Homo sapiens: one gene and its partners. The protein of the gene in region 1 interacts with the protein of each later gene in a pairwise test. Each region holds a gene or a part of one and is shown in the gene's direction. Other genes may lie near its edges.

Region 1 (2,933 bases):
GGCCACCACGCGTGGTTTTGCACAGGACCTGGGCCAGCTGTGCACATGGAGCGGTCCTGGGCTTCAGTGGCTGACCCCTCCCTTCCGCAGCTGAAGTCGTTCCTCCGGGAGTGCAAGGTGGCCAACTACTGCCGGCAGGTGCAGCAGCTGCTTGGGAAGGTTCAGGAGAACTCGGCATACATCTGCAGCCGCCGCCAGAGGGTTTCCTTCGGCGTCTCTGAGCAGCAGGCAGTGGTTAGTGGGCCCTGGGGGTAGTGCCACCTGAGGGCACCTGCCAGGGTATAGCCCCAGCTACATGTGGGGGTTTGCCCAGGGTGAGGCATGACCCTGAACTCCCCCAACCCCCCAGGAAGCCTGGGAGAAGCTGACCCGGGAAGAGGGGACACCCCTGACCTTGTACTACAGCCACTGGCGCAAGCTGCGTGACCGGGAGATCCAGCTGGAGATCAGTGGCAAAGAGCGGGTGCGGCTCGGCGAGGGGACCTGGGGGTGTGTTGTGACTTCCTGGGTTTCAGATCTAGCGCACTATGACTTGAGACCAGGGCGAGGGTTTGGAAACAGTGCCAGGCGGCCAGGGCCGTGCCCGGATGATTCGACTTGGAGAGGGGGTAGGTGTTGGAGAACTGGCCAGAACCAGGCGTTTCCAGGGAGGGGAAGCCCCAGGCTGCACTAGGTTGGGGAGGCCATGCCCCCTCAGGCCTGATGGGCTGGAGGCTCCGGGCAGGTGGAGTGGCTGGACTGACCTCGTCACCCAGGCCAGTATGTGGGCACCAGGGGCCCGTGAGGAGAAGCAGGAAGGGCTCTGCCTTTGACCTTGGACATGGGATGGACAACTTGGAGGATGGCTTTGTGATTTGGGAACAGAGGGGACTAGAAATTGGCCACATGGGGCCCTGGTGGTGGGTCTGGCGATGCCTGGCCCTGCTGTGGCCGCCAGCCCCTGCCCTCTCTCACCTGAGCCCCTGGTTCTTTGGCCTTCCAGCTGGAAGACCTGAACTTCCCTGAGATCAAACGAAGGAAGATGGCTGACAGGAAGGATGAGGACAGGAAGCAATTTAAAGACCTCTTTGACCTGAACAGCTCTGAAGAGGACGACACCGAGGGATTCTCGGAGAGAGGTGGGGCCTGCGTGGTGCTCCCAGGGGAAGGGTGGGCCTGGAGGGCTCTGCTGGACTTCCCAGAGCCACGAGGGCCACCTGTACCCATCCTGCAGGGGGCTCACCAGTCTCTGGCCCAGCTGGGGCCAACCTCAGTGTTGCCAGGCTTCTGGTGCCAGCGCCTTCCCTCCTTGAAGTGAAGGCCTACTGGGATTGGTAACTCTGTCCCCAGGCCTGTGACCTCCCAGTTCCTCCCCAGGGCTCCTCTCCACCTGCTGGAAGTCAGCGGAGGGAAGGGTGTTGGGAGCCTGGCCACCCTCCTGCCCCCACTGTGACTTTGCTGGTGGACCCTGTGGGTGGGAGTCATATGGACTCTGCTTCTTGTTCCTCAGGGATACTGAGGCCCCTGAGCACTCGGCATGGGGTGGAAGACGATGAAGAGGACGAGGAGGAGGGCGAGGAGGACAGCAGCAACTCGGAGGGTGAATGGTCTTGGGGTGAGAGGGTGTGGCCCTGTGAGCCCATCTGGCGGGAGGGCAGAGCCACGTGGGCGGGGGGCGTGGGGCTCTGGGCCAGGCTTTTCCCTCCCTGGGAAGGCCAGGCCAAATGCTCTGTTCTCTGGCAGCCAGCAACAGGGATAAATTAATTAGTGCCGTGATTAATTAGTGATGAGTAACCTCTAAGGCTGGCTTCTTCCTGATAAAGCAAAATTTATGTAGCCTCCATCTCTCCCCGCAGATGGAGACCCAGACGCAGAGGCGGGGCTGGCCCCTGGGGAGCTGCAGCAGCTGGCCCAGGGGCCGGAGGACGAGCTGGAGGATCTGCAGCTCTCAGAGGACGACTGAGGCAGCCCATCTGGGGGGCCTGTAGGGGCTGCCGGGCTGGTGGCCAGTGTTTCCACCTCCCTGGCAGTCAGGCCTAGAGGCTGGCGTCTGTGCAGTTGGGGGAGGCAGTAGACACGGGACAGGCTTTATTATTTATTTTTCAGCATGAAAGACCAAACGTATCGAGAGCTGGGCTGGGCTGGGCTGGTGTGGCTGCTGAAGCCCCACAGCTGTGGGCTGCTGAAGTCAGCTCCGCGGGGGAGCTGACCCTGACGTCAGCAGACCGAGACCAGTCCCAGTTCCAGGGGGAGGCCTGCAGGCCCCTGGCCCCTTCCACCACCTCTGCCCTCCGTCTGCAGACCTCGTCCATCTGCACCAGGCTCTGCCTTCACTCCCCCAAGTCTTTGAAAATTTGTTCCTTTCCTTTGAAGTCACATTTTCTTTTAAAATTTTTTGTTTTGCATCCGAAACCGAAAGAAATAAAGCGGTGGGAGGCAGGGCCATTGTGTTGAGTGGTGGCTCCTGGAGATTTGTGTGGCCCCACCCCTACCCCCGGCAACCTCAACACAGAGGCTGGGAAGGGTCGGGGGCCCCTGGAAGTAGAGCCAAGGTCCCATTCTCCTGCTTGGGTGAAGTTTGACCGGCAAGGGCGTGGCCCCCTCCATAGGGGGACGTGGCCGTCGTGGGGGACAAGGGCTGCTCTCCTGTGCCGAGTTCTCGCTCCGGGGCCCGCAGGGTTGGTGGCTGCAGTGGCAGAGCCACGGGGAAGCTGGCCACGTAGAAAACTCGGCCCAGGCGCCTGGCCACCTGCAGAGAGATGGCCTGGTGGGGGCTGTCGCACACCCACCCAGAGCTTTCTGCCCAGCTGTGGTCTGGAGACCCTGACCTCACTCCCCAGCGTCTCACCTGGGCCCGGATCTTGAGGGCGGGCCCCAGCTTCAGCCCCATGTTGGTCAGCAGGTGCTCCTCCGTCAGCAGTGGCAGGGTCTCCCCGTCGATCCCCTGCTCCCTG
Region 2 (3,656 bases), on another chromosome or scaffold:
CCATTGAAGTCTTACTTGTGGTCATTGATCATCATGTGCTTAATGTTTTAAATACTTATATAGCTCCTGTATTGTGATAAGGCAGTGTTGGATCACATGCATTTTAAAACTTAGAGTTAAGCAAATGTGTAATTTTAAATTAATTAATTAAAGGCAGCCACTAAGGTACTCAAGCGGATAAAGTTACCAAATGATTTACTTGTTTCTGATGGTAACATTCTTCAACAGCTCTTGATTTATATTAGTATGGATTACCTTACTCTAAGAAAACCTGATTCTCCAGTGGATAGATTTATTTTCAGCTAAACCTTTGTAGTCTGTACTTAACCATGAATTACTTCCTGGTTTAAAAAACAGGCGTAGCTATTTGTGGTATTTTTGTCTTGCGCCTTTGGCATCTTAGCGGTGTGAACCGGAGCTATGCCATCTGTAGTCAAGTGAGATTATTAAAAAAGGGGGGGTGGGAAGTGAAATGATTCACTGGAAAATTTCAGCACAGATTCTTAGGGAACGATAAGATAACCCTAGAAACATTCTTATTTGGTGTCATCTGCTGGTGGGTAGTGACAGGGAAAAAAAAGAAGGTACAACTTGTTTCTTAAGATTTTGCTATTTTGAAAATCAGAGAGGTGCGGTGTTAGAAAGGAAGAAAGAATTGCTTGCAGTGTCATTTAGCAGAGCTCTGCAGATGAATGAATAATTTTCCTCTCTCTTAATGCAAGTTGGAGCCAATGAGGTTCATTTTTAGCACGCAAAACCCAAAAGGCAATATTCTCATGTTTACGATGGTTGTCTAATTTCCTGATGGGTGTATGTGATAAAACTCTTTATGCTGAGATACTTCAGAAAGAGAAGGACCCGTTCCTAGAATGCTAAGTAAGTCTGTGGGGCCTAGATGAGCCATTTCTGAAGTCTGCTGAGTTTAACATACCTTCACTTAACGACACGTGTTTTAACCTGAATATATTGATTTCAGGGAATTCTTCCAGAATTACATTTGAGATTCGCCTAAAACATGATGTCTTTTTTTCTTTGCTTTCGTTTTCAGAAAGAAGACATAGCTCATCCAGCAAGCCGCCTTTGGCCGTTCCTCCCACTTCAGTATTTTCCTTCTTCCCTTCTCTGTCCAAAAGCAAAGGAGGCAGTGCAAGTGGAAGCAACCGTTCTTCCAGTGGAGGTGTTCTTAGCGCATCCTCATCAAGTTCCAAGTTGTTGAAATCACCCAAAGAGAAACTGCAGCTCAGGGGGAACACCAGGCCAATGCATCCCATTCAGCAAAGTAGAGTTCCCCATGGTAGAATGTGAGTATGGCCAAGAGGGTTTTTAAAGCTTACCTGCTGGAAATGAAACTGTGTACACTAGTGGCATGTGAGAGTGCCTGTGAGTAATATAAAAGAGAGTCTACTTGGGGAAGAATTCAAATGTATGTTGTATTGTTTCTTGATGTTTCCCTGTCATGTCATAGGAAACTTTTCAGAGTAGTAATAGCAGTGATAATAAGGTTACTAACATTTATTGATCCATTCTTGTGTGCTAGCTACTGAAACCTAACTCTATGTGTGTACTATGTCACTTATCACAACAACCCTATGGAATAGGTACTGTTACTATCCTCGTTTTCCAGATGAGGAGAAGGAAGCTTCGTGAGGTGGGGGAGTTTTGTCCAAAAAGGCCTCAAGTCACATAGGCCTGGATTTGTGTCCCATTTCTGTCACTTCTTAGCTGTAGGGGTTTGGGCAAGGCACTGTTTCTGTCTAAGAATAACAGCCACTATGCTGGGTTATTGAGAATATTTTAGTTAATATATGTCTAGCACCTGGCATAGTGTCTGGCCATAGGGGACGGTTAACAAATGGATACTGGCACTCCTGCTACTGCTGCTGTGGATAATAGTAATGATAAAAAGATGCAGAGATTCCCAGATGCTGCTGTAGAATTTTTGGGGGTCTACGGAGCAAATAGGGAAGCAGTGCTTCCTCCCTTCAGCCTTAGGTTCACATCACAGCAGTGATGAGGGAAGACTGAAGGAAGTTCACACCTGCCAGGCATGGCTTTGGCAAGTTTCCATGGTCACTCAGTAGATTGACAGGTTTCTTGAGGTCACGTGAGGGAGCAGCCACGCACTCCAATAGGAACATGCTTCGCCTTGTCATGGCATCCCTCAGCCTGGTGACGGATGGCTTTTCTTGGGCCAGCCTGCTTTTGGAGGGTATAGCACACATCGTAGGTCCAAGATCCGGTAACCTGGTTAATCTCAGGGTAGGGTCCAGCACCTGCTGCTGCATAAGGACCTTGCCAGCTGGGAGAGGATGTGACATCTTGCAGTCTCTCTACTGCTGTCAGGCTATTCCAGGTACAGTTGTTTGGGGCTGTTTGTCCTGGTTGCTAAGCCCCCAGCCCCTGTTCTTCTGTCAGAAGTACAGTACAGCAAGCTTGGTTTTTGTTCCGGGAGCAGTCTGAAAGCCACAAACGGTGCCAGTGTAGTGTGTAAGTCACTGGCCAGCTTAACAGCTGTTAGAGCACTGACTCCACTGAACAAAGTTTATACAACCTCATTGATTCAAATCTTCTTTACTTAGAGCTAGGCCTTTAGATAGGAACCAGGCCAGTTGTTAGCTTCCTACCAGTATTTTCAGTTTTACCAAGCAAAATGATAGTGTCAGTAAGATTCCAAGATTCATATCTTTGTTAATGGCACAGGTATTCCCTAAGCTCCTGTCATAGAAACATTTTTCAAGGACTGGAGAATTACCACTTTAGTGACACAACATATATTTATTAAACACTAGTCTCCCTTATTGACAGAAGCAAAGAACCTCTTCTTGGAGATATGTTATTTAGCATGTTTGAGTTCTCATAAGTCTTTAGTGACATTTATTGGAAATATTTGCTCACTCAGAAGTTTACTTTGTTTTGATGAATCCTTTCGTACAAATGGCAGTCCTCAAAAGATATTCTCCAAGGGTTCTGCAAATAGTCTTTGTTTCTTTTAGACCTTCTCATGTTTTGCTTCTTATAGAAATTGCATTGCATTGGGTATCAGGTCTGAGTTTCCCATTGCCTCATGTGTAAAATTTTTTGAAATGATGAAAGACCAGGCAAATTTGATGGTCCACTGAGGGTTTTGCCTCACCAGAAGGGCTTATAGACTTAATCAGTATGAACCTTACTAACAAAACTCATAAGGAGCCTTCCAAGAGGCTGGCCCTGTGCAGCGCTTGGGTAGGCCCAGGCTCTATCCTCATCCCTCTGGCTCACCATTCACCTGGGGGCTGCTGAGGCACTCAGGCACTGGTTTTCTCACTTCCTCCTGTGACAGCATGACACCCTCTGTGAAAGTGGAAAAGATTCATCCGAAAATGGATGGCACACTACTGAAATCTGCGGTGGGGCCAACCTGTCCTGCTACTGTGAGTTCCTTAGTCAAGCCTGGCCTTAACTGCCCCTCAATACCAAAGCCAACCTTGCCTTCACCTGGACAGATTCTGAATGGCAAAGGGCTTCCTGCACCGCCCACTCTGGAAAAGAAACCTGAAGACAATTCCAATAATAGGAAATTTTTAAATAAGAGATTATCAGGTAACTTCAAATTTTCTTTCTTCATAATGCTTCTCTATATATTAAATGGGCATTCGTGGGGAGCAAATCAACTGCAA
Region 3 (2,564 bases), on another chromosome or scaffold:
AAAAATGTATCATGTACAGATGAACTCTTCTTATACTACACAGCAGAGTAGAATTTGCTTCTCACTGGAAGATGAGTAGGGCCCCTGCATACTGTCTTGGTATTTTGGATTTTATGATTGTTATTGTTTTGTAATTGCATACTGTGGATCAATCTTCACCTCTATTTTCCTTTCAGTTACGGACGAGTTTATGCTGCCGACCCCTACCACCACGCACTTGCTCCAGCCCCCACCTACGGCGTTGGTGCCATGGTGAGTACAAGTTTCTCCTTGTCCTCACTTCCTCCTGCCTCCCTTCCCTTTCCCCAGCTGGGACCTCAGTACGGGTTGACGTCCTCTCACTTCCCGTTAATTGAATTTGTCTCTTGTGCTAACAGCAGCTAAAATGCCACATTAATCCTCCCAGTAAACTTGATAAATGTCTTAATTTCTTGGCAATGTAGTGCATGTAAGTTATTATATTTCTAATTTTGCAAGTCTCACCTAGCAGAGCACTTACCTTAATGGAATAATTAGTCATTTTGATAATTAAATCCATCACTAACAGAATGCAGTGTCAATGCAGAACTTTTTTTTTTCTTTTTTTTTCCCTCCCTTGCTGCTCATTCACATAGCCCCAAGGTTCCAGCCCCAGCACAGACTTCAGAGGAGCTAAGCTGCACACTTCCAGGCCTCTGCTGTCAGGCAGCTGAGAATCTGACTGCCTCTCCTCCCCTATTACAATTCATGTTTAAAGTCATAGTCGCCCAGGAAAGAAAATAGAGAGGGGCACACTTTGTGTGTGTACCTAGTACATAAGAAAGTAGAAGGAATCAGCTGGGTTTGGGGGTTGCCTTTTGTTTTGGGGCAGGTCTGGGTTTTTGTTTTGGGAGGGGGTGGGGGGAGGGTAAAAAATGGGAGGTAAGGGTGGGGTGAACTTGCCTGTACTTGTTCAAACTTCTATGCACTGAAACTCTTGAGTACAGTAAGACGTGCCCATCACGTGAGAGCATATGCAATCATTACAAAGCTTTGGCATGCAGTTTTCTGCTTGGATCAAGAATATCAGTCCTTACCCTAAAAATGAATCCCCATAGGCATTCATTTGAATTGCCAATACTTTTAGAAAAAGGAAATCGTTAAGTGCCACCTTGTAGCCATTAAAACCATGGCCGGACAGTTCACTGAAGCTCAGTCATAGAAATTCAGCCATGATTTGGAAGCATTGTTTTGCACAAGCTTAATTACATCAAGCAATTCATCTGTACAACTCCACAACTCCCTTCTCAAGATCAGATTCCATACAGCTTACAGAGCCAAGTTAAGTAAGAAGTAGGTTGAGATTTTCATCCCAATTCTGCATTCAACAACTCTGCTTCAACACCTAGTCCACATGAGGAATGTGTTGGAGAGTTGAATTACATTCAACAACTGGTCCAAATTCAACCTCAAGTGCAGATTATTCTGTTATAAAAAAATGAGACAGTGAAAATCCTTCCATTGTCCAGCTTATAATAGAGTCCTTTTAGCTAAGAGGACTGGCTGACAGAATTTGGTTTTGCAGGGAATTTCTTTAGGAGGAGCTATTGGGGAAGGTCAGGAATGGCCCTATCTTTAGTTCTCCAAGAATGACCTGGGATGGGTAGGGGGTGCCTCCATTTCGGTTGGTTTTGAGTGTCTATTTTTCACATTAGTCTTTTTGATGATCCACATGTTGCAAAAGGAAAATGTAAAAAACACACCCCTCAAATTGCTTTGTTTCAGAATGCTTTTGCACCTTTGACTGATGCCAAGACTAGGAGCCATGCTGATGATGTGGGTCTCGTTCTTTCTTCATTGCAGGCTAGTATATACCGAGGGGGATACAACCGTTTTGCTCCATACTAAATGACAAAACCATAAAAACCTTCCAATGTGGGGAGAAAGGAAGCTTTCCGAGGCCTGAGTATTGCAATACATGCAGTAGTACATCATTTTAGCAACTCTAAAAAAAAAAAAAATACAAATAAAAAGGAAAAAAAATTACATTTTTTATCTTATACCTCAGATATTTTGTTCTGTGTATTTTAATATTGTGGGTCTTTAATTTCTGAAGGTTCCGTAGTTTGGTTGCTGGCTGTAGGAGTTTTTGTGGTTGATCTAGACAGATGCTAGATAATGAATAAAAACTGGTTTAGGGCCATATCCAGAGTGCTATATTATGTAAATGAATTATATATGCTGAATATTAAGCTACTGGGGTTATCAGCTATTTGGGAAGAGTGTAAGTGACTACAGTAGTCATTTTTTTCTGCACCTGCATTATTTTATTTTGCGAAAGGGGAGGTTGGGAGGGGCTTAGGGGATTGGAACTGGGGTTTGGCTGAAAGAAAAAAAAAAAAATGTAACTGATGAATCTAAACGACCCACTGCACCAACAATCATTTATCAATGGTTCTAAGTTACTCATTGCCAGTTCAAGCCAAAGGTCATGTTGTTAAGGGGGTGCTTCTAGTAGCACTTGTGCATCTGAGTTGAATGAAGCTGTGCAAACCCACCCTTTAAACCATTCCACCCGGCAGTATTCAGCTTCTTAACCAGTCGCT

What was found.
Region 2: the proteins of NOC2L (region 1) and ATXN7 interact in a two-hybrid assay, tested with the Homo sapiens proteins (one study listed by BioGRID and IntAct).
Region 3: the proteins of NOC2L (region 1) and RBFOX1 interact in a two-hybrid assay, tested with the Homo sapiens proteins (one large-scale study listed by BioGRID).

Annotation. Positions count from the first base shown.
Region 1 is NC_000001.11:943,703-946,635, reverse strand, and holds the end of NOC2L (nucleolar complex protein 2 homolog), read left to right. Parts: intron 1-90; coding exon 91-234; intron 235-349; coding exon 350-463; intron 464-982; coding exon 983-1,118; intron 1,119-1,489; coding exon 1,490-1,579; intron 1,580-1,835; coding exon 1,836-1,942; 3' UTR 1,943-2,433; downstream 2,434-2,933. Other genes in the region: SAMD11 (sterile alpha motif domain-containing protein 11), read right to left, coding at 2,483-2,728, 2,828-2,933.
Region 2 is NC_000003.12:63,978,867-63,982,522, forward strand, and holds part of ATXN7 (ataxin-7), read left to right. Parts: intron 1-1,048; coding exon 1,049-1,301; intron 1,302-3,319; coding exon 3,320-3,579; intron 3,580-3,656. UniProt on the Homo sapiens protein: Acts as a component of the SAGA (aka STAGA) transcription coactivator-HAT complex. Mediates the interaction of SAGA complex with the CRX and is involved in CRX-dependent gene activation.
Region 3 is NC_000016.10:7,708,880-7,711,443, forward strand, and holds part of RBFOX1 (RNA binding protein fox-1 homolog 1), read left to right. Parts: intron 1-176; coding exon 177-252; intron 253-614; coding exon of another isoform or gene 615-762; exon of another isoform or gene 763-1,743; coding exon 1,744-1,866; 3' UTR 1,867-2,564. UniProt on the Homo sapiens protein: RNA-binding protein that regulates alternative splicing events by binding to 5'-UGCAUGU-3' elements. Regulates alternative splicing of tissue-specific exons and of differentially spliced exons during erythropoiesis.